Linked DNA regions of Homo sapiens. The protein of the gene in region 5 purifies or fractionates together with the protein of the main gene of each other region. This does not show direct contact. Each region holds a gene or a part of one and is shown on either strand. Other genes may lie near its edges.

Evidence for each region.
Region 1: the proteins of KIF2C (region 5) and SLC6A15 purify together in Homo sapiens (affinity purification with mass spectrometry; one large-scale study listed by BioGRID and IntAct). This does not show direct contact.
Region 2: the proteins of KIF2C (region 5) and RCBTB2 purify together in Homo sapiens (affinity purification with mass spectrometry; one large-scale study listed by BioGRID and IntAct). This does not show direct contact.
Region 3: the proteins of KIF2C (region 5) and HABP4 purify together in Homo sapiens (affinity purification with mass spectrometry; one large-scale study listed by BioGRID and IntAct). This does not show direct contact.
Region 4: the proteins of KIF2C (region 5) and SAR1B purify together in Homo sapiens (affinity purification with mass spectrometry; one large-scale study listed by BioGRID and IntAct). This does not show direct contact.
Region 6: the proteins of KIF2C (region 5) and SGMS2 purify together in Homo sapiens (affinity purification with mass spectrometry; one large-scale study listed by BioGRID and IntAct). This does not show direct contact.
Region 7: the proteins of KIF2C (region 5) and LSM14A purify together in Homo sapiens (affinity purification with mass spectrometry; one large-scale study listed by BioGRID and IntAct). This does not show direct contact.

What each region holds. Positions count from the first base shown.
Region 1 is NC_000012.12:84,881,800-84,885,299, reverse strand, and holds part of SLC6A15 (sodium-dependent neutral amino acid transporter B(0)AT2), read left to right. Parts: intron 1-1,259; coding exon 1,260-1,441; coding exon of another isoform or gene 1,442-1,555; exon of another isoform or gene 1,556-3,500.
Region 2 is NC_000013.11:48,523,081-48,526,580, reverse strand, and holds part of RCBTB2 (RCC1 and BTB domain-containing protein 2), read left to right. Parts: intron 1-1,823; 5' UTR 1,824-1,922; intron 1,923-3,500.
Region 3 is NC_000009.12:96,453,169-96,456,668, forward strand, and holds part of HABP4 (intracellular hyaluronan-binding protein 4), read left to right. Parts: intron 1-3,500. UniProt on the Homo sapiens protein: Ribosome-binding protein that promotes ribosome hibernation, a process during which ribosomes are stabilized in an inactive state and preserved from proteasomal degradation.
Region 4 is NC_000005.10:134,615,829-134,619,328, reverse strand, and holds part of SAR1B (small COPII coat GTPase SAR1B), read left to right. Parts: intron 1-3,500. UniProt on the Homo sapiens protein: Small GTPase that cycles between an active GTP-bound and an inactive GDP-bound state and mainly functions in vesicle-mediated endoplasmic reticulum (ER) to Golgi transport.
Region 5 is NC_000001.11:44,742,837-44,746,336, forward strand, and holds part of KIF2C (kinesin-like protein KIF2C), read left to right. Parts: intron 1-3,500. UniProt on the Homo sapiens protein: In complex with KIF18B, constitutes the major microtubule plus-end depolymerizing activity in mitotic cells. Regulates the turnover of microtubules at the kinetochore and functions in chromosome segregation during mitosis.
Region 6 is NC_000004.12:107,831,432-107,834,931, forward strand, and holds part of SGMS2 (phosphatidylcholine:ceramide cholinephosphotransferase 2), read left to right. Parts: intron 1-3,500. UniProt on the Homo sapiens protein: Sphingomyelin synthase that primarily contributes to sphingomyelin synthesis and homeostasis at the plasma membrane.
Region 7 is NC_000019.10:34,210,504-34,214,003, forward strand, and holds part of LSM14A (protein LSM14 homolog A), read left to right. Parts: intron 1-3,500. UniProt on the Homo sapiens protein: Essential for formation of P-bodies, cytoplasmic structures that provide storage sites for translationally inactive mRNAs and protect them from degradation. Acts as a repressor of mRNA translation. May play a role in mitotic spindle assembly.

The DNA.
Region 1 (3,500 bases), on a different chromosome or scaffold from region 5:
ACATTCAGGATTGACATACTCTTAGAGATAGACTTTTGGGACCATCTAATTTTTTTAGCTCTTTCCAAGTTACTTTACTATGCCCTAAGATATTAGGGTAAAGTATTATAAGCCTTCACTTATTAACTTTGATAATCTTTATTTTGTATGCCCTGATTGATGCCTTACATTTTCATTAAAACTAACAGAAAGGGGACAGAAATAAGAATTTGAATGAAAATAGTTGCTTTTATGTCTTTGGTTCTGTTGTTTCATACTTTTCCCATCATTTTTTTAAATCCCATAATATAATATAAATATTATAAAGAGCAGTCACCTATAGTAGTGATGTCTAGTAAACATAGATTGTAATGCACAGATATAGTTTATATTTTTCAAGTAAACATGTTTAAAGAAAGTAAAAAGAAATAGATGAAATATTTTACTTAATCTATTATATAAAAATACTATTTCAATATATAATTACTCTAAACATTATTAATATAATAATTCACAATAATTTTCTTATACTGAATCTGAAATCTAGTTCAAATTTCACATTTGTAACCCATGTCACTTTAGATTGGCCCCATTTCTAAAGCAACATGTGGCCAGCAGCTAGCATATTTGACAATGCTTACCCAGGGAGTCAATCCCATAATTCCAAGGGTAGTAGGGGTGATAAACCTGATTTGTTTAAATTACTTTGATAAGGGGTTGGGTGCGGTGGCTCACTCCTGTAATCCCAGCACTTTGGGAGGTCGAGGCAGGTAGAGCCCCTGAGGTCAGGAGTTTGAGAACAGTCTGGCCAATGTGGTGAAACAACATCTCTACTAAAAATACAAAAATTAGCTCGGTTTGGTGGCGGGTGTCTATAATCCCAGCTACTTGGGAGGCTGAGGCAGGAGAATCACTTGAATCCGGGAGGCAGAGGTTGCAGTGAGCCGAGATCGCACCATTGCACTCCAGCCTGGGCGACAGAGCAAAACTCGGTCTCAAAAATAAAAATAAAATAAAATAAAAATAAATAAATAAAAATTACTTTGATAAGAGGTTCACATATTCTTACTGCAGGACTGCATAAGAAATATTTAACAGGATACATTTCTGTTTGTTGCACAGTTGAATTTTTATTGTTCATTGTGAATTTACATGCTGCTATACAATGGTAGTACTTTTCTAGGAAGCATTAAGAATTCACTTACAGGTTTATTGGAAAAGAAATTGTCGCATTGCTCTTTATATTCTGAAATAATTGTGTGTTACTTTTCTTTCTACAGTTGTAGAACCAGAATGTGAACAAAGTTCTGCCACCACCTATTACTGGTACAGGGAAGCACTGAATATTTCAAGTTCCATTTCTGAAAGTGGGGGCTTAAACTGGAAGATGACCATCTGCTTGTTGGCTGCCTGGGTCATGGTTTGCTTGGCTATGATCAAAGGCATTCAGTCTTCTGGAAAAGTTAGTATGTTAGAGCCCTTCCTCATTCTGCTAATCACCATTTCTGGATTCATCCCTCTCTCAAATTCTGTTACAGATTTCTGTGGGCAAATCACACATAACACTTCATTCTAGGTAGTTAAATATTAGTGAAAAGTGACACTTCAAAAGTGTGCTTACATTTTTAAAAAGACAAATAAAAACAGTGTTTTATAGTGAAATCTAAGGTTAATTATAATCTTTCCTTATTTCAACAAGATCTTTAAAATTTTTGTGAATACTTAAAAGTCCTTTCTTTTTGCCCTTTATTCAATTAGTCCTAATGTTTCAGTTCTCTAATTACCAATTAGTTAAATTATGGAAATTGGGGAAAGTGGTAAAATGAGTAATTCATTCATTTTGTTTGTTTGATATCATTTGTTTCTCTCTGCTGTAGGTGTTCTAAGGAATAGCTGCATAAGACATTTTGAAATAATGTAATGTGAAGTGTTTCTTAAAGCTCTGAACATCATTAAGTAGTTAATAATAATTCCAACAAGGAATTCAGAGTAATGTAAAAGACTAAATATCATTCCTTCTAAGGCAAATTGAAAATTAGAATGGTTGTGGTTTAAAAAGACATTAAGTGAATTCTAGGTAGCTTGTTTGTTATTATTTTTAAAGGACGCTCTAGGAAAGTAATTGCTATTCACTATTTTGCTTTCGTATTACTTTTTTTTTTTTTTTTTCATTATCACAGCCATTGTTCTAAAGCTCTCCACATCTCTTGGCTGGATCATAGCAAGAATTTACTGTTGGCTCTTCTCTCTGCCGTTTAACTGTCCAGCTGTGCTATTTTCCTTTTCAAAGTATAACTGATTTCAGGCTAACTTATTACCACTCATCATCATATACTAGCAGGAATGGCAATAGTAGTAGTAGTAGCAGCAGCAATAGTAGAAGTAGTCATAATAACAATAATAATAAATGATGATAAAGATGTTTCTGACAAGAATTAGGGTAAGAACAGTAATTGAAGCCAATTATTTATTACAAATGTATTTTGCTTTGGGTACTGTGATAACTACTTTTTATACTTTATCCCATTTAATTATAAAAACCACTCTTGAGAAGTAATTTTTATTTTCAGAACCATTTTACAGATTTAAAATAAACAGGTTTGAGGAATTAGTTTAACTTATCCAAAGTTTCGTGGCTATTAAGTTCTAGTATTTGGAGTCAAATGCAAGTCTGTCTAAATCTAGAGCCCATGTTCTTTAACTGCAACACTATAATGTCTCACCCCGTCCTAGTCCCACCAATTAGTCAACTCTTTTAGGGCAGAAGTCTGTCTAATTCATCTTTGCTTCCTGTTACTTTATATTTAATTAAAAATTTTAGTGACTTTTTAACTTGTAAATTGTAGCTGATTTTACATTTATCTTCCTGAAGGAAACTCTGTATCATTTTGTCTTTTGAATTTGTGAATATACTTGTTAACACATCTAAATATCTTTAAGTCTTTGGCAATGTTATTGTATTATATGACTAAATAACTTCGAATTGTTCAATTGTGTATGTCTTCCACTATGTCAGAGCCACATTCCCGTCACATTATAAATGAAGGAGTGGATTCTTAAATAAGACCTAACCATATTTATATGATTCCTAACATAATATCATTTGGTAGAAAGAAAACCAACTGTGGTCATCCAGAGAAGCTCAAAAACTCTTGTACTCAGGTTCTCTTACTACCACGTTTTGTTTCTGTTTCTTCTTAGTCTGTGTCTTAGCATCACTTAAAGAACTATTCATCCTTTTCTTATCACAGAATCTTGGGGTTGTTCTTCTCATGTCATGTAGTGTAAATTTATATAGAAAATGTAATACAATTTATTTAGTACATACATTTATTATTTTAATGAGAATGCCTCAGGAAAAGACTAGTATTTGGGCAATATTTGAAGAAAGAATTTAACAGGCACTGATGGGGAGAAAGCTAGCTGTAGGTAATGTGAGCAAAGATGTGGAAGCCAAAATTGTCACAATTCCTCAATCTGAAACAATGAGTTAAATATAATAACAATGACTTTATGAGGAA
Region 2 (3,500 bases), on a different chromosome or scaffold from region 5:
CAGTGGTGCGATCATAGCTCATTAAAAAAATTATTTATTTTTTATTTTTTGAGATAAGATCTTTGTCACCCGGGCTGAGTGCAGTGGTGTGATCATGGTTCACCGCAGCCTCCACATCCTGGGTTCAAGCGATCCACCTATCTTAGCCTCCCAAGTAGCTGGGACTACAGGCGTGTACTACCACGTGTAGCTAATTTTTAAGTTTTCTGTAGAGACGGTGTCTTCCTATGTTGCCCAGGCTAGTCTCAAACTTTTGGGGGCCTCAAGCGATCCTCAAAGTGCTGGGATTACAGGTGTGAGCCACCATGCCTGGCCTTCCTAGGGTATTGATTCAATTTTATTTTACAGATGGCTAAAGAAATTATAGTTTATGAGTTTTCATTACCAAACGTTTATTGAATTTCCATGTCCTTGGTAAAGGCAAAATTAGAATGATAGCATTCTCATTTTAAGAGTTTATTTTCTTTAACATTGGGTAACCTTAATCTCTCCATCCTGAGATGATTAATTTAAGCTTAAAATCTTGAAAACCATCTTGTCAGATGGAAAAGCTGTAGCATACCAATTCATTGACAGAGTTACATGGGACCTTTTATCTTTGGTATTCCCTCCACCAAAACTTCCCCACGAAAAAATTCCCATCAAAGTCTAGCCATGCATATGTTGGTATCCATAACACATTAAAATAGTACTGTCTTCTGCATGTTTTAAAATGTTATCAAATATCAAATGTTATCAAATGATACCATATGTATCATTTTGTGACTTAGTGATTTTGGTGAACATTGTTTTGTAGATATACCTGTTTTGATTCTAGATAATTTATTTTAATAGCTATATAGTATGCATATGCCACAGTTTATTGGTTTTGTTGATCAATTTGTTCTTTCTTGCTTTTTGCTATTGGGAATATTTGTGTGTATGCTCTAGAGTTTATCTAGGGCAGTGTTGCTAAAATTGCAGGACTTGTTAGTGATCTGGAAATTAGTGGGCTGAGATCAGCATTTTCTTTTAAAATGAAATTGAACAAGATAAAATAGGATAGAGTAGGGTAGAATAAAATAGCATAAAGTAGAAAAATGGAAAAGATATCAAGCATCTCATGTAGGAGGAGTAAGAATTATTTTGTGAAATTTCAGTTATATATACATATATAACTGAATATATATATATATATATATATATATATATATATATATATATATATCATGAATCCTTTGCTCACTTTTGAATTGTGTCGTTTGTTTTATTCTTACTGATTTGCAGGCATTCTTTATATATTTTGTGTATGGATCCTTTCCAAGCTGTCCATTATGCATGTTACAAATATCTTCCCCCATTCTGTGGCATATTTTTCCTTTTGTTCAAGTTTACTGCTCTTTTCTTTGTGTTTTATGCTTTCCTGTCTTATGTATGAAATCTTTAACTGCTCTGAGGTCATAAATATATTTCTATACTTCTAAAAGTTTGAAAGTTTTGCTTTTTTTTACATTTCCACATGGATTCTCTTTTATTTTCCATATGGAAATACTATAGATTAAATTCTCCTTAGTGTGCATTTTTTCATGTGTTTCAGTGTCCAAATTGTTGAAACCCTCTCCTGAAGCTTATAAAGTATGATATTCTAAAGTTACATTTTATAACTTTAGTATTTTTATAATAGAGCATCTCTGCTGCTGACTTTTTAATAGTAGATAGCACAGATACAATTTTTAAGCTGTATTTTTCTCAGATAAAGAATGGATTGTTAAATGTGCAAGACAGTATATTCTTTTCCTTCTGTTTTTCTCTAATAGAATTTATTTGTGTATTTATATTTCCAGTCACATTAACTTTGCTCTAGAAGACAACTTTACAAGGATCTAAAAGGAACAGGATTAAAGATGACTGAATACTGGGTTCCAGAAATTTAAAACAATCAGGTACAAAAGTTTTTGGAGGGAATGCTCCCAGCCAGTCAGTATAAAATAGAACTGTTGAGAATGTACACAAGAAAAACTTAAAGTATCTAGCCCTGAAATACAGTGGAGGGTCCCAAAACAAGGGCTTTGGAATAGTCCTGGTTCAAATACTGGCTCTGACACTGATTGGTTGGTGACTATTGGTCACGTTACTGAAATGTGTGAATAAAATGGAGGCAATGATTAACCTGTTTCATTTGGATATTATAAAGATTAAATAAGGTGAGGCACTTAGTGCCTGGCACAGAATAACTTTATTTTTACTGTTGTTATTGCTGTTGTTATTTAGAATACATTTTATCACATCATGGATATGGCTTTCTGTATGTATATTGTGAATTGTTATTTTAAGTATATATATCAACATATTGTTAATAGCCTGGTGAAATCACATGGATAACAGGGTAAGGTAATCTCCACGTGTAGTGCACAAACTATACATGCAAATTGGGGATGATAGTTTTCTTTATTATGTATGCATCACATTGAAATAATGTAAAAAAAAAAGCCAACCATCTCCCACAATGCTAAAAAATTCAAAACACTTTTTAATAGTATTATACAATAGTAATTAATCTTGATTTATTTTTAAATCTTGAAGGACTTTCTGATTGACAAATATGAAATTATGTTAATCTTACATTTCATTCAATTTGAATCCTGCATGTCATTTCTTTGAATGTGGTAATTTCCATGACATACATACAATTATGTCTTAACCTGATGTCAGATAAACAGAATGGCCTGTTTTCCTACCATTCTAATTTTAAAGAGTTTAATTTTACTTGAAATTGATAAAAGACACTGAAAAGAGGTTATTTCCTACTCAAAAGCCCAGGATCGGTTTTTCATGATTTTAGCACATTAGGAAGATTTCCCTTCTGCTAGGAACGAAAGGGGGCCTAGGGTAGTGCAGTGAGGGGCAGTCACATCTCTACTTGGTCCCTTCTTTTTTCTCTTCTCTCCCTCTTTCTTCTCCTCTCCTTTTATTTTTTATTCCAGTAAACTTGGGGCAAATATGGAAAAAGTGTTTCCTGATAGGGTGAGGCAGAAGGAGAGGGAACTTTGGTTACAGGCCAGTTCCAGTATACAAAAAGCTGGGTTCTAAGGATGCTTTGTATGAATACGTTGCGTTTTACTCTGAGCCATGGGCTGTGGGTTATAGCAATGAAGGAATCGTCTGCCCTTTTGAAGAACTTACCAATTAATAGAGAAGGTACATCATACAAGAATAACTGTCATATGAGGCAGAATTTGAAAAATGCCTTCAATGTAGTTAAAAACAAAACAAAAAGTGCTGTGGAAATACAGAGAAGAGGTCCCAGCCCATTTGGGTAATCAGGATCCACATTGATGTAAATCTCAGTGGCAGTCATGCTGGGTCTTAGAGAAAATTAGGATTTTAACAGATCTGCTAAGATGCCATAGATAATATGTAGTAAGTATTAATTAAAATGACAGAATATCTTTCCATATTGTCAATCAGATCGGTTTATAAATTTTTAAGTGAGAAACTTCTAAGTAATCTTCTAAAAAGCA
Region 3 (3,500 bases), on a different chromosome or scaffold from region 5:
CGATTCTCCTGCCTCAGCCTCCTGGGTAGCTGGGACTACAGGCATGCGCCACCATGCCCAGCTAATTTTTGTATATTTTTTAGTAGAGGCATGGGTTCACTATGTTCATGTTGGCCAGGATGGTCTCGATCTCTTGACCTCATGATCTGCTTGCCTTGGCCTCCCAAAGTGCTGGGATTACAGGTGTGAGCTACTGTGCCTGGCCTAATTTTTTATATTTTTAATAGAGATGGGGTTTCACCATGTTGTCCAGGCTGGTCTTGAACTCCTGACCTCAGGTGATCCGCCCGCCTCAGCCTCCCAAAGTGCTGGGATTACAGGCGTGAGCCATGATGCCTGGCCAAAAATGTAGGTTTTTAATGTCTGACTATCTGTCTAGCAATATGTATATAAACCCTTGGGTGAGCCTTGCTCAATAAGTTCATTCTTAAAGTCATGAGAGGCCGTTTCAGTTTTGCTTTTCCTAGCCTTTCAGAATTATGTTCTTTGAAACAAAGGTCAATTTTATTTTGTGGAAAATCTTACTGTAAATTTTATTGTATTCTGTTTCTTTACCTGGGCTTGGTTTAGATGATGATGAATGCATGTGCCAGCCTTTTCTTGGCGAGGTTAGTGAAATGCAGTGCTTGCATTCTCCACTTGGAGCTGCTGATCCAGCACAGAAAAACAAGCCCAATTCATGGCAGTGTTGATCTCTTAGTACTAAATTGTGGGGAAAAAATTGGATGCTGATTATCTTTGTTTTGGGAGAGTTGGGAAGGAGAACGAGATGTTTGCCCAAAACTGATCATTATTCTAATTATCTTTGTTTTGGGGGGTTTGGGAGGGAAAATGAAATGTTTGCTTGATATTGATAATTATTCTAATAAGTAGCCAATTGTATTTAACAGTTTTCAGTTTTATACTGTTGGAAAAGGCTTTAATATGGTGTACAGTAAATGTCCTATTTTAAGTTTGATGAATTCCAAATTTGACGCAATTAAAAAATAACTTGGAGGAAGCAGAAAGGTGGGATAAGCACCTATAAGTAATTCTGTAGTTGAGTGGAGATAATAAAAGATGTTTTTAAAACTATGGGTTGGAAATAGGAAATCTGAAACTATGTTAAAATAACTCTTTTTACGCTGGGGTAAAAGTATGGAAAAGTATTGTTACTGTTGACAAATTTTCTGATGACTGTTATGTCATGATCTGTTATAATTTTCAACTTGTTAGGTAATTAACTTTCTTAGTGGCTTTTTCTGCCTTACATTTTGAATGCCTTTTCCAGTTCTGAACTCTTTTTTTTTTTTTTTTTTTTGAGACGGAGTCTCGCTCTGTTGCCCAGGCTGAAGTGCAGTGGCACGATCTTGGCTCACTGCAAGCTCCACCTCCCGAGTTCAGCCATTCTCCTGCCTCAGCCTCCCCAGTAGCTGGGACTACAGACGCCCGCCACCACGCCTGGCTAATTTTTTGTATTTTTAGTAGAGACAGGGTTCACCGCGTCAGCCAGGATGGTCTCAATCTCCTGATCTTGTGATCTGCCCGCCTTGGACTCCCAAAGTGCTGGGATTACAGGCATGAGCCACCGCGCCTGGCCCCAGTTCTGAACTCTTAATAAAGCACGTGCCCCCAGATCTGATGTTGCACACTCCTAGGCAACCGGGCACAAGTGTCAGTCACAGTGGGGGCTGCGTGGTGGCTCACGCCTGTGATCCCAGCACTGGGAGGCTAGGCGGGAGGATCACTCGAGCTCTGGGGTTCAAGACCAGCCTGGGCAACAAAATGAGACCTGTCTCTACAAAAAAAAATTTTTTTTTTAATTAGCTGGGTGTGATGGTGCAGCCTGTAGTCCTGGCTATTTGAGAGGCTGAGGTGGGAGGATCAGTTGAGCCCCAGAAGTCAAGGCTGCAGTAAACTATGATCACACCACTGCAGTCCAGCCTGGGTGACAGAGACCCTGTCGAAAAAAAAGAAAAGTGTCATTATCTTGATATGTCTGCAATCAAAGCATAATACTCTGCTGGGTGCAGTGGCTTATGTGTGTAATCCCAGCACTTTGGCAGGTCGAGGCAGGTGGGTCACCTGAGGTCAGGAGTTCAAGACCAGCCTGGCCAACATGGTGAAACCCTGTCTGTAGTAAAAATACAGAAAATTACCTGAGCGTGGTGGCACAGGCCTGTAATCCCAGCTACCTGGGAGGCTGAGACTTGAGAATTGCTTGAACCTGGGTAACAGAGGTTGCAGTGAGCTGAGATTGTGCCACTGCACTCCAGCCTGGCAGTCTGGGTGACGGAGTGAGACTGTCTCAAAAAAAAAAAAAAAAAAAAAAGTGGCCAGGCACAGTGACTCACACCTGTAATCCCACTACTTTGGGAGGCTGAGGCGGGTGGATCACCTGAGGTCTGGAGTTCGAGACCAGCCTGGCCAACATGGTGAACCCCCATCTCTATTAAAACTACAAAAAAATGACCTGGGTGTGGTGGCAGGCACCTGTAATCCCAGCTACTCAGGAGGCCGAGGCAGTAGAATCACTTGAACCAGGGAGTTGGAGGTAGCAGTGAGCCGAGATGGTGCCATGGCAGTCCAGCCTGGGTGATAGAGTGAGACTTGGTCTAAAAAAAAAGGCAGGTGTAGTGGCTCATGCCTGTAATCCCAGCATTTTGGGAGGCCGAGACCGGTGGATCACTTGAGGTCAGGAGTTCGAGACCAGCCTGGCCAACATGGTGAAACCCCATCTCTACTAAAAATACAAAACTTAGCCCGGTATGGTGGCACATGTCTGTAATCCCAGCTACTTGGAAGGCCGAGGCAGGAGAAATGCTTTAACCTGGGAGGCGGAGGTTGCAGTGAGCCAAGATCACACCATTGTACTCCAGCCTGGGTGACAGAGCGAGACTCTGTCTCAAAAAATAAATAAATAAATAAATGAAACATTATGCTCCACTTATGATAACATCTTTCCCATATCCTAAACATATCACAAGCCTCAGATTATGACCTCACTACAGGATATGAATTGAATTTAAATATTTCTAGGTTATGGGAAATTAAAATTATAGTAGGTTGAATTTAGATCTGTTGTGCAGCTTTCACACTTGAAAAAAATACTTTAACAAGGAATAAATTATATAATTTTATGTTAGTGATGTCATAAACATCATTTTTGCTTTAAAATGAGACCGGTTAAGATTTACCTGTACCCAGATGATAAAGTTTTGGTAGAAAATATTAAATGGGAAAATAGAAAAGTGTGTATCTACATATATTCCTTAAGGTCTTATGTGTATCTAAGTGGGAGGGAAGTCTAATAGTTAAAAAATATAACTGTGGCCAAGGGCAGTGGCTCACGCCTGTAATCCCAGCACTTTGGGAGGCCGAGGTGAGCAGATCACGAGGTCAGGAGATTGAGACCATCCTGGGTAACACGGTGAAACCCCGTCTCTACTAAAAATACAAAAAATTAGCTGGGCGTGGTGGCGGGCGCCTATAGTCCCAGCTACTGGGGAGGCTGAGGCAGG
Region 4 (3,500 bases), on a different chromosome or scaffold from region 5:
GATGGAGTCTTGCTCTGTTGCCCACGCTGGAGAGCAATGGCACGATCTCGGCTCACTGCAACCTCTGCCTTCTGAGTTCAAGCAATTCTCCTGCCTCAGCCTCCCAAGTAGCTCAGATTACAGGCATGTGCTACCACACCCAGCTAATGTTTTGTATTTTTAGTAGAGACGGGGTTTCAACATGTTGGCCAGGCTGGTCTCAAACTCCCGACCTCAGATGATCCGCCCACCTCAGTCTCCCAAAGTGCTGGGATTACAGGCATGAGCCACCACACTTGGCCAAAAATAATGTTTTTTAATAATGACTCTAATTTTTTTTTTTTCCTTTTTTGAGACAGAGTCTCACTCTGTTGCCTAGGCTGAAGTGCAGTGGCACCATCTCGGCTCCCTGCAACCTCTGCCTCCTGGGCTCAAGCAATTCTCCTGCCTCAGCCACTGGAATAGCTGGGATTACAGGCATGTGCTACCAAGCCCAGCTAATTTTTGTATTTTTAGTAGAGACCAGGTTTCGCCATGTTGGCCAGGCTGGTCTCGAACTCCTGGCCACAAGTGATCCACCTGCCTTGGCCTCCCAAAGTGTTGGGATTACAGGCGTGAGCCACCACACTTGGCTGACTCTGTAAATTATTTAATAAATTTTATTTTGCATTTAAGGTTATGTAACGAATTTGAGAATAAAGTTAATGTTAAAGTGGGTAAATTATTAGAAACAGAAACCTAATTTAACCTGTGACCTTACTTTTACAGGTGAAAATTTTATGAATCAGATAGACACAGAGTTTAAAGACAAGTTAATCTATAGATTAATTATGAAATAGTAAGTGTAGCCTTAATAATGAATATAAAATTGAGAACTGGACCAAAAAGTAGATAATACTGTAATTATTTAGTCCAGTAAATGTTCAAAGAACAAAGAATGAGGATAGAACAAAACAAAGTATTTTATCTATAAAACAATTAGTGAGGTTGGAAAAGGAAATTGACAAATCTTTTTTTTCTTTTTATTTTTTTTGAGATGGAGTCTCGCTCTGTCACCCAGGCTGGAGTGCAGTGGCACGATCTCGACTCACTGCAACCTCCGCCTCCCAAGTTCACACCATTCTCCTGCCTCAGCTTCCCGAGTAGCTGGAACTACAGGTGCCCGCCACCACGCCTGGCTAATTTTTTGTATTTTTAGTAGAGACAGGGTTTCACTGTGTTAGCCAGGATGGTCTCGATCTCCTGACCTCGTGATCTGCCCGCTTCGGCCTCCCAAAGTGCTGGGATTACAGGCGTCAGCCACTGCGCCCGGCCAACAAATCTTTTTTTTATATTAGGAGAAAAAAGTGGGGCTTGGCAAGTAAGATTCTGATATAAGAACAATTCTGTTAAAGAAAAAATGATCATGGTGAAATTGAGTAGATAAAATTGTCTGCAAAAACAGCGTAATTTCCAACCTGGCCAACATCGTGAAACCCGTTCTGTACTAAAAATACAAAAATTAGCCGGACACGGTGGCACGTGCCTGTAATTCCACCTACTCGGGAGGCAGAGACAGGAGAATTGCTTGAACCCGGGAGGCGGAGGTTGCAGTGAGCCAAGATGGCGCCACTGCATTCCAGCCTGGGCGACAGAGGGAGACTCTGTCTCGAAAAAAACAAAAAACACAGAAAAAAAACCCAACAAAAACCAGCATAACTGGAAGAGACTACAGAGTGGTCTTAAATATTAGGTGTAAGTCATTTTTTAATTTTTTGACGTTGCTCTATTTCATTTATTCAAATATTTATTGAGCACCTACTTTATGTCAGACATTGTTCTGGATACTAGGGGAAAACAGATGCTATCTCAACCTTTCCTGCAGCTCACATTCATTTCAACTCATATTTTTTAATTAATCAAAAGCATATGTGATCTATTCTGGTGTGGAAAAGAAAACATTTTTGAAAAGGAAAAAAAAGCATATGTGAAAACCTACATATATCCTATGATCTGGCAGTTCTACTCCTAGTTACTTACCCGAGAGAAATGAGAAAATACATTTACCAAAAACCTTGTACAAAAATGTTTATACTAGCTTTATTTGTTGGTGGTGAGTTATTATTATTTTTTTTTTTTGAGTCAGTGTCTCACTCTGTGGCCCAGGCTGGAGTGCAATGGCACAATCGCGGCTCACTGCAGCCTCAACCTCCCAGGTTCAAGTGTTCCTCCCACCTCAGTCTCCCAAGTAGCTCGAACTACAGGCACATGCTACCACATCTGGCTAATTTTTTAATTTATTTGTAGAGATAGGGTTTCACCATGTTGCTTAGGCTGGTCTTGAACTCCTGGGCTCAAGCGATCCTCCCATCCAGCCTCCCAAAGTGCTGGGATTACAAGTGTGAGCCACCATACCCAGCCTATACTAATTTTATTTGTAATAGCCAAAAACTGGAAACACCTCAAATGTCCATCAAAAAGGAAATTGATAAATAATGGAATGCTACTTAGCAAGAAAGATGAATAAACCACTGATACATTCAGTCATATTATGCTACATGGCAGAAGCTGGTCATAAAAAGTTATCTACTGTATGATACCATTTATATGAAATTCTAGAACAGACAAAACTAACCTGTGGTGATAGAATTCAGATCAGTGGTTGCTTCCGGAGATGAAAATGGGGATTGACTGGGAAGGGGCTAGAGGAGACTTTCTGGGATGTTAACAGTGTTCTGTATCTTAAATAGCCTAATTCAGACTTCTTTTATAAAGCAGAAAGTATATTGGGGATTATTACCATAGAGGTGGTTTGCTAACTAAGCATTATCTTTTCCTTATGAACAGTGACTTTGAATATAGATTGTATTAAATATTTTATTCATTTGGCAATCTACACATAGAATTTCTTTCTTTCTTTTTTTTTTTTTTTTGAGACAAAGTCTCGCTCTTGTCCCCCAGGCTGGAGTGCAATGGTATGATCTCAGCTCACTGCAACCTCCACCTCCCGGGTTCAAGCGATTCTCTTGCCTCAGCCTCTCGAGTAGCTGGGATTACAGGAGCCTACCACCACTCCCGGCTAATTTTTGTATTTTTAGTAGAGACGGGATTTCACCATGTTTGCCAGGATGGTCTCGAACTCCTCACCTCAGGTGATCCGCCCCCCTCGGCCTTCCAAAGTGCTGGGATTACAGGCATGAGCCACCGTGTGCCCTGCCCTTTTTTTTTTTTTTTTTTTTCCGAGATGGAGTCTCGCTCTGTTGCCCAGGCTGGAGTGCAGTGGCCAGTCTCGGCTCACTGCAACCTCCGCCTGCCACATTCTCCTGTCTCAGCTTCCCTAGTAGCTAGGATTACAGGCATCTGCCACCACGCCTGGCTAATTTTTGTATTTTTAGTAGAGACGGGGTTTCACCACATTGGCCAGGCTGGTCTCAGAACTCCTGATGTCTCAAGTGATCCACCCGCCTCGGCCTCCCGAAGTGCTGGGATTAGAGGCATGAGCCACTGCACCTGGCCTACATACAGAATTTCTTTATTTATTA
Region 5 (3,500 bases):
AACCTGGTTGAGGAGACAAAAAGACGTTTCTGAATCACCAACTAACCAACTAACAGAAGACAACTTGTGATGAATGGCACAGATGAGCATTGCTAGAGCAGCTCAGAGGTGGAAACTTGCTGAGAATGGGCTGGGCTTAGAGGGTGGAGTGTGAAGGCTTAGCTGAAGCAGCAAGATGGCACACATGGGGACCATGAAGAAGCTGGCCACGAGCAGTGCAGGGCCCAGGATGCTTGGCAGCCGCAAAACAGCTGAAAAAGGAGACAAAGGTCTTCATGTCTGGCACTGAGCTGGTTAGGTTTTCTTCTGTAGGCAGTGGGGAACCTTGGAAGGATTTTGAGGAGAGCACTGTGACTAAGACATTTCTGTTCTAGTGGCATTGTGGTGTAGTGAAAAGGTCACTGGGCTAGGAGTATGAAAACCTGGATTCTAGTCTGGCTCTGCCACTGCTTTGTGTTCTCAGGCATGTTTCTGCCCCTCTTCGAAGTTTAGTTTCCTCATCTATAAAGTGAGGATGATAATAATGTCTACCTCACAGGGTTGTTGTGAGGATTTACTCAGCACATTTTTTGGACTGCTTCCAAAATGCTAGACACTTATTGGGTGCTAGGGATACAGAGGTGAAGGAGACAGACTCTTGGACTCTCTTCCATGGAGCTTAATAAAATAATACATGTAGCTGGGCACAGTACCTGTAATCTCAGCACTTTGGGAGGCTGAGGCAGGAGGACCTCTTGAGGCCAGGAGTTTGAGTCCATCCTGGGCAAATACAGCAAGACCTCATCTCTACTAAAAATAAAAAACAATTAGCCAGTCATAGTGGCTTGCGCCTGTGGTCCCAGCTACTCCAGAGGCTAAGGCAGGAGGATTGCTTGAGCCCAGGAGTTCAGGGCTACAGTGAGCCACTACACTCCAGCCTGGGTGACAGAGTGAGACCCTGTCTCAAAAACAAATAAATAAAAAAGATAAAACATGTAAAAAGCTTGCTTAGCATAGTACGTATAGTAGAGATATTTAGGTGGTATATTTGAGAAATAAAAGGATTGAATACTTTCCATTATCTGCCCCTAAAGAATTAAGAGGTTCCTAAAATTCCTTTCAACCAGCTATTATCAGTCTTTTGTGATTTGTTTTTGTTGCTTGTTTAGAAATATATCCCTTGTTTTACCTCAGATCAAATACTGCTTTTGGAATAAGATCCGAACTTCTTAGTGGGGCATTCAGAGCCTTTTCAAGCTCTGGTTTTTTTTTTTGTTTGTTTGTTTGTTTTTTGAGACAAAGTCTCACTCTATCGCCAGGCTGGAGTGCAGTGGCACGATCTCCCTCAGTGAGCCGATTTCGGCTCACTACAACCTCCATGCCCCAGGTTCAAGCAATTCTCCTCACTCAGTCTCCCAAGTAGCTGGGATTACAGGCACCTGCCACCACACCCAGCTAATTTTTGTATTTTTAGTAGAGACAGGGTTTCCCCATGTTGACCAGGCTGGTCTCAAACTCCTGACCTCAAGTGATCTGGCCATCTTGGCCTCCTAAAGTGCTGGGATTACAGGCATGAGCCACCACATGTGGCTCAAGCTCTGATTCTAATCACCCTTTTTCTTTGTACCACATACTCTTCTTCCACATATCCTATGCCCTGGCAAATGAGGCAGTTTACTGCTCTGTGACTGCCTAATTCCCTGCTGCCTTTACACTCTTATTCCTTTCTCCTGGGATGTTCACCCTGAATTATCAACATGAGAATCAGTTGATTGTCAGAGCAAGGCTTAAAACTCTGGTTTTCGCGGGTCGTGGTGGCTCACACTTGTAATCCCAGCACTCTGGGAAGCTGAAGCGGGCGGATCATGAGGTCAGGAGTTCAAGACCAGCCTGGCCAATATAGTGAACCTGCATCTCTACTAAAAATCCAAAAACTTAGCCGGATGTGGTGGTGCGCACCTGTAGTCCCAGCTACTCAGGAGGCTGAGGCGGAAGAATCGCTTGAACCCGGGAGGTGGAGGTTGCAGCGAGCTGAGATCGCGCCATTGCACTCCAGCAGCCTGGGCGACAGAGTGAGATTCCGTCTAAAAAAGGCCGGGCGTGGTGGCTCATGCCTGTAATCCCAGCACTTTGGGAGGCTGAGGTGGACGGATCACCTGAGGTCAGGAGCTCAAGACCAGCCTGGCCAACGTGGTAAAACCCTGTCTCTACTAAAAATACAAAATTAGCTGGACATGGTGGCGCATGCCTGTAATCTCAGCTACTCAGGAGGCTGAGGCAGGAGAATCACTTGAACCTGGGAGGCGGAGGTTCCAGTGAGCCGAGATCATGCCACTGCACTCCAGCCTGGGCACCAAGAGTGAAACTCCATCTCAAAAAAAAAAAAAAACCTCTGGTTTTCTTTGTTGTTTATGCTCTCTGTAGTTTAGGGGTTAGAAATGGGGGAGGTATGTACCAAGAGTCTGTGGCTGTCCCAGAAGTGTGGATAGAAGTGTGATTACTGAAGTGCTTGCCAGCTTTTGCATTTAGTGATTCTATCCTCCTTTTTTTTTTTTTATTTAAATCTCATTCTGCTTTGATTTCCTTTGTACATATGACTTATAATCCCCATTAGAAATTGAGCTCATGGTGGCAGGGGTTGTATATGTCTTTTTTTTTTTTTTTTTTTTTTTTTTGAGACAGTGTTTCGCTCTTGTTGCCCAGGCTGGAGTGTGATGGCGCTATCTTGGCTTACTGCAACCTCCGCCTCCCGGGTTCAAGCGATTCTTCTGCCTCAGCCTCCCGAGTAGCTGAGATTACAGGCATGCATCACACCTGGCTAATTTTTTATTTTTAGTAGAGACGGGGTTTTTCCATGTTGGTCAGGCTGGTCTTGAACTCCCGACCTCAGGTGATCTGCCTGTCTCAGCCTCCCAAAGTGCTGGGATTACAGACGTGAGCCACCACGCCCGGCCTATATATGTCTTAATTCATCTTTGACTACCTTCCCCCTGTAGGCTGCTGTCTTCGTGGTGCCTAACAAATGTTTGAATAGGCAGCAAATAACTGCAGATTTCTTTTTTCTTTTTCTTTTTTTTTTGAGACGGAGTCTCGCTGTGTCGCCCAGGCTGGAGTGCAGTGGCGGGATCTCGGCTCACTGCAAGCTCCGCCTCCTGGGTTCACGCCATTCTCCTGCCTCAGGCTCCTGAGTAGCTGGGATTACAGGTGCACGCTGCCACACCCAGCCAACTTTTTGTATTTTAGTAGAGACAGGGGTTTCACCGTGTTGCCCAGGCTGGCCTTGAACTCCTGAGGTCAGGTAATCCGCCCACCTCGGCCTCCCAAAGTGCTGGGGTTACAGGCGTGAGCCACCGCACCCAGTCCTGCAGGTTTCATCTCTAGGCAGTAAAGCCCTCACCCTAGAGTACATGCTTCAGCTCTGTCACATTTTGAAATACAAAGTTGGGACAAATTTAATATGTCTGAACCTGTTGTAAAGCTATCCTGGTGAAGTTTGAGTTGTTCCTGGAGAATTGCAGGAC
Region 6 (3,500 bases), on a different chromosome or scaffold from region 5:
TCTTGGCTGTATAATGGGAGTAAAATAATATTTACCCCATAAGGTGACTATACGAATTACATGGCTCCCTGTGTATAAAACATTGAGAGTAATGCCTGCTTCATGGTAAATATTCAAGGGCTCAGCAATCATTATTTTCTGCATATAAGCTGCACTTCTAACTTTTAAAACAAAGAGTTCAGTCCCGTTGTGTCAAATGGAACCATTCTTTCTCGTTAAGGTGGCATGTATCTTTTGGAATGGTATATCCACATTCAAGTGTTACATCTTGGCTGTGCTAATAGGAGCTGGAGCCTGTCCCATATTTTTCCCTCCCCGTTTCCTTTGGGGTTAAAATAAAATGATTGAAGTTGGTTGTACACTGCCATTGAATTCAAGAACTTTCATAAGAAGTGTATAACATCAGCTGTGAATGCTGAAAAGCTTTTCAAGCCACAGTCACAATATGCCTGCCCTCTTAGCAGATGCTGGTAGCGGTAGTCTAGCACAACTGGTACTGTCCCTCACAGAGCTTAGGCTTCTGGGGAGTATTGTACCATGAACACCACTGTCCCAGAAAGTGCCCGGGCCACTAAGAATCACAAACCCTACTGTCCTCGCCAGTGCTGTGCGTCTTTCTTTAGGAGGCCCTGAGACAGTTTATTTAACACAGCTGCTACTGTCTTCTGATATTTGCATTTGTTCAGCGAGTTGTTGAACCACCCAGTTATTACTACCCCAGTAGTTGCTACCAAACTTTCATAGCAACAAAGGGTATTGTTTTGGTTAGTGTAATATACCAGTTCTTCTGCATGAATGTCATTGAATATATTTACGTATATATAAAATATATGCCATATGGTAAATTAGCTAGGGCTGAGAAGTTTGCTCCCTTGAAATATAGTTTCATTGGCAAGTTATAAGCAGCAAGCAGGAGCATTTAAAAGTTTATTTAACAAATACTTATATTCACTATGTGTCAGGGTTTGTTCTAAGTACTTAAAACTGTTACTCATTTACTCCTAAAATTCACTTTAAGGATCCTACTTGAAACACAGGGGGGTTAAGTCACGTACTTAAGGCCACACAGGTGGTAAATAGTTGAATTAGATTTTGAAAGCAGGCAGCTTGACTGCAGAGTCTAATCACTGCACTGTTGCTTGTGGAATCTAGCATGTTTCTCACAGTTTGGGCCCTATTTGTGTCTTTGTGTATGCAATTTTGCCAAAGAAAAAAATTGCACCTGTTCAAACATATGATCAACTCCTTGGTTTACCATGTGGAGGATTACAACTAGATTATATATTTCAATATTGCTATTGAAAGACATTGATAGACTGGGTACTGTGGCTCATGCCTGTAGTCCCAGCACTTTGGGAGGCCAAGGCGGGTGGATAGCTTGAGTCCAGGAGTTTGAGACCAGCCCAGGCAACATGATGCAACCCCTCCTCTACAAAAAACACAAAAATTAGCCAGGTGTAGTGGTGCACACCTGAAGTCCCAGCTATTTGGGAGGCAGATGTGGGAGGTTTGCTTTATCCTGGGAGGCTGAGGCTGCAGTGAGCCAAGATTGCACCACAGCACTCCAGCCTGGGCGACAGAGTGAGATCCTTTCTCAAAAAAGAAAAAAGACGTTGATACTAATTTTCACTATAGTGTTATCAAGCATTTCCCTGTAAAAGCTTCTGAGTGCATGGTCGACCCTGGTGATGATCCGGGAAGGAAGCATGCATTCTCCCATCCCCCACTCAGCACACTCAGCTGAGCAAGACTAGCAGCAATCTCAGGCCTCCTGTCCTAACAGCATTCTTTTTATTTTTTTAGCTTTAGGGTTTTCATTTGTTGTAAATTAAAATAGTTAAAAATCTTTATCGGAGGAGAGTAGCTTGTACACTTGAGGTTGCTTTGTTTTCTAATTACTGTTGGAGATGGTAGTAAGCAGAATAATGGCTCCCCAAAGATGTTCACATCCTAATTCCCAGAACCTATGAATCTGTTGTGTTACACAGCTTGAACATTCCTAGTCTGAAAATCCAAAATGCTCCAAAATCTGAAACTTTTTGAGTGCCAATGTGACACCATAAATGAAAAATTCCACACCTAACGTCACATGATGGGTCGTAGTTAAAACAGTCAAAACTTTGTTTCATGCACAAAATTATTTAGAACATACAAAATTACCTTCAATCTGCATATAAGATGTATATGAAAAGTAATGACAATATTCCAAAATTCAAAAAAAAATCCAAAAGACTTCTGGTCCCAAGCATTTCAGATAAGGGATTCTCACTCATCCTGCACGGAAGGGGGAATTCAGGTTGCAGATGGAGTTAAGGGTGCTGACCAGCTGATGTTGACATTAAGATTATCCTGGGTCATCTGGGTGAGCCCAGTGTAATCACAAGGACCTTCTGAGTGGAAAAGGGAAGCAGAAGAGTCACAGCAGGAGAGTTGACATTATTGGAAAAACTCAAACATCCATTGCTGGCTTTGAAAATGGAAGGAGGCCACAAGCCAAGGAATGCACACAGTCTCCAGAATCTGGAGGAGGCAAGGGAATGAGCTCTCCCGTGGAGCCTCCAGAAAGGAGCACAGTCCTCCTGACACTGTGATGTTTAGCTCAGAGAGATCCATTTTGGACTTCTGACCTCCAGAACTGTAGGAGAAAAAAATCTGTGTTCTTTTAAGCCTCTAACTTTGTGGTAGAGCAGCAGTAGAAACAAATACAGAGCAATCTGTGTTTTGATTTGTTCCTTATGCCAGTCCTAGCAGAGGGCTGCCTGATCTCATGATTTATTACAGACACATTAAGTATAGCAAGGTTTACATTTTGACGGCTGTTTTATTTTATATGTAAAATTAACCACTTTGTGGGAGGGAGAGTTAACTTTTGATAATTCTGTGTATTTCTATACCTAACAATTATTTAAAATGACAGTACCAAGGTTTCCAGGAAAAAAGTGTCTTAGTAATTCTGGAGCAGGTAGAGCCACTTGAATCTTTTTTGTCAGAGTTGCCTAACAGGAATGTGGCTCTGCATCCTATGTAGTTGTGTCATACCTTTGCATTTGTTTAGGGTGAAATGATAGTCCCAGCATGGTGATACTGGGATGGTGGAGATTATCACTTAATTTTTACTCCAGGTTCCTTTTCATTTTTAAAGATCTGGTATTTTCTCATTTGCCTAGCAATGTTATTATGAAATCCCAGAGAACAACAGCTGTAAACAAAAGGTGACATCATTCATTGGGTCATCTATTGTAAGTATGTAAAGGGCTATAGGCTCTTAGAGTAGACAATATCTCAGAATCACAGTGTCAACTTCTGAAATTAAAAGAACAAGAGGCTGGGCCCAGTTGCTCATGCCTGTAATCCCAGTGCTTTGGGAGGCCAAGGTGGGAGGATCACTTAAGGCCAGGAGTTTGAGACCAGTCTGGGCAACATAGCCAGGCCTCCATCCCTATCCCGTGCAAAATTAGCCAGGTGTAGTGGCACACACATGTAGTCCCAGCTACTCAGGA
Region 7 (3,500 bases), on a different chromosome or scaffold from region 5:
TCAAGTGATCCACCTGCCTTGGCCTCCCAAAGTGCTGGGATTGTAGATGTGAGCCACTGCGTCCAGCCTACTTGCTTAATTTTTAAACATTCTAAAGATTGTTTGTTTGTTTTTTGAGATAGGGTCCTGCTCTGTCTCCCAGACTGGAATGCAGTGGTGTGATCATGGCTCACTGCAGCCTCTACCTCCTGAGCTCAGGCCATCCTCCCAATTAGCTGAGATCACAAGCAAGCACCACCAGCTAGTTTTGTAGGGACGGGGTTTCGCCATGTTGCCAAGGCTGGTCTGGAACTCCTGGGCTCAAGTGATCCACCCACCTTGGCCTCCCAAAGTGCTGGGATTATAGGCATGAGCCACAGTGCCCGGCCTATTCTGGAATTTTTAGTTAAATCAGGAACACATGAAAAAGAAGCATAAATATTGAAATTAGCATTATTCATGAAGAATGAGAACTAATAAGGAACTTAAATTAGGCACAGGCAAAATGTAAATTAAATATACAAAAGTCAATAGTTCTGGCCGGGCACGATGGCTCATGCCTGTAATCCCAGCACTTTGGGAGGCCAAGGCAGGCGGATCGCCTGAGGTCAGGGGTTCGAGACCAGCCTGGCCAACCAACATGGTGAAACCCCATCTCTACTAAAAATACAAAAATTAGCCGGGCATGGTGGCGTGCACCTGTAATCCCAGCTACTCAGGAGGCTGAGGTGGGAGAACCCGGGAGGCAGAGGTTGCAGTGAGCCGAGATCACGCTACTGCACTCCAGCTTGGGCGACAGAGCGAGACTCCATCTTAAAAAAAAAAAAAATTTAATAGTCCTAAAGCCTAATCCATTGATTATGTAATGAGGAGAAAAGATGATTACAGTAATGCAAAATAGAAATTGTATACAAAATATATAATAAGAAATAAGTTGGTCATACTAAGAAATATGACCAACTTCTATGATAAATAATGTAAGACAGGGACATAAAAGTTGCATGTAATGGAAAAAACATATCTTATTGCTAGATAGAAGAACAAGAACAGTACCAGCACTTAGGGAGGCAAAGCCAGGATGATCACTTGAGCCCACGAGTTTGAGACCAGCCTGAGCAACGTAGTGAAACTTCATCTCTACCAAAAAATTTTAAAAATAAGCAGAGTATGATGGTGGACACCTGTGGTCCTAGCTACTCAAGAGGCTGAGACAGGAGGATCACTTGAGCCCAGGAGGCCGAGGCTGCAGTGAGCCCTAACTGCACTACCTCACTCCAGCCTGGGCGACAGAACCAAGACCCTGTCCCCCCCCAAAAAAAAAAGATGTTGGGAAGACTTTACTCCTCATAGTTAACAAATTTATTGCAAATTAATTAAAAATCAATGCAAATAGAATAGTAGGAGAACTTAGTAAAACAGTTTATCTTTAAAATAAACATGGAAGTGTGGCTGGACATATTTGAAAAATAAAAGTAATGGGTTTACTGACATGATAATAAAATGTAGCAATGCAGGAAAAAAGAAAGAGATGAATAGAAAGCAATAGGCAGGCAGAAACAGATCCGAGTATAAATAAGAATTTATCCTGGGTGCAGTGGTTCATGCCTGAAACCCTAACATTTTGCGAGTTCAAGATGGAAGCCAGGGATTTGAGACTAGCCTGGGCAACATACCAGGACCCTGTCTCTAAAAAAATTAAAAATTAGTTGGGCGTGATGTGTGCGCCTATCAGCTTGAGAGGCTGAAGCTAGAGGATTGCTTGAGCCCAGGAGGTTAAGGTGGCAGCAAGCTGTGATTGCGGCCCTGCACACTAGCCTAGGCAACAGAGCAAGAATTCATCTTAAAAGAATTTAGTAGATGATAAAGGTATTATTTTAAATTAGTGGAGAGAAGGCTGTCTGTTCCAATTAATAATGTTGCCTGATCATTTGGAGAAAGTCACTCTAGATTCTTTCCCTCATACTGAGCACCAAAAAATATATAAATTTTAAATAGATTAAAATGTTAAAAATTTTGAAGTATGTGTTTATTAAAAGAAAGAGGTGTATTTACATAAAGTTATGACAAATGACAAGTCCTAAGAGTTTGCATTTAAGTTTTATCAACTAAAATTGCTGAATTTCACAAAATTAAAATTCCTAGAATTTTAAGTGTGATAAGATTGTGAAGATAGCTCAAGGGAGTGTGTCTATAATATGCAGAAATCACTTCTGGATTTATTCCTAATAATGTATCCAGTATCACAGTATCACCTGTATTTCCCTGTTTATAACAAAACTGGCATCATGATGATTAGTAGGCCTTAATAGTGAAAAGGCTTTTTAAGTACACAACAAATGTTTCTGTACTTGCTCCGATTGCCCCATTGCTTGTACTTCTGTAGTACTTGTGAGCCATAGGATCTTTTCTCAAAAGCCTTGATAAAGAAGTTTTATAAACTTATAAGATGATTTAATGTAGTACCATAAAATTAACTGTAGCAGTAGGCTTTTTCAGGAAGACATGTGAAATAAAAAAAATTAGCAAGGTGTGGTAGCGCACATCTATAGTCCTAGCTACTCAAGAGGCTGAGGCAGGAAGATCATTGGGTCCCAGGAGTTAGAAGTTGCAGCGAGCTGTGATTGCGCCACTGCACTCCAGCCAGAGCAACAGAACAAGACCCTATCCTGTCCCTAAAAAACAAAAAACAAAATGTGTTTTATAAGTGATTATAAAATGTTTTTTTCATAGGCCAAAACTTACATAAACCATGATTTCCCATTATAATCCAGTGGAAAAATTGTAATGCTTCTATTAGTGGTAACTTAATTTTGAAATGTTAAGTAGATTGTGCCTGTGTCGGTTTCTGGGTTTTGATAAATGATCATTTATTTGGCTAACTTTGCCATTAATGGCTGAAATGGTATTGCACATTTGTAAGTGCATACTTTAGATAATCATAAATTGGGGAAATATTACTAATAAATTATCCCTGAATCATCTAGGTACATAATAATGCATTGTCAGCACTCACCAGTTGTTTGACACCTGCAAATATGCACAGATGGACAGTAACATTTGCAGCATATTTGGGGGATTTTTTTACGTGAAATGAGCATTTTTTTTAAGCAAAACATTATATTTTGGAATAATTATGAGATGTGAGTGCCTAAGCAGAGATGTACAGCAAACATTATCAGGACAGAAAGCATGATGGGAGCACCCGATGTTACATTCTTCAGTTCATGCTGTGACCAGGCGACCTCATAAAAGGAAAAATATAATGTATAAGTACAAACCCCATTTTTTGTTTTGGCTCTTTTATATTTGTATTTTTTGAGACAGAGTCTAGTTTTGTCACCCAGGCTGGATGCAGTGGACCGATCTCGGCTCACTACAACCTCTGCCTCCCAGGCTCAAGCAATCCACCCACTTCAGCCCCCTGAGTAGCTGGGGTTACAGGCATGTGCCACCACACCTGGCTAATTTTTGTATTTTTTTTGTAGAGACAGGCTTTCGCCATGTTGTTCAGGCTGGTCTCG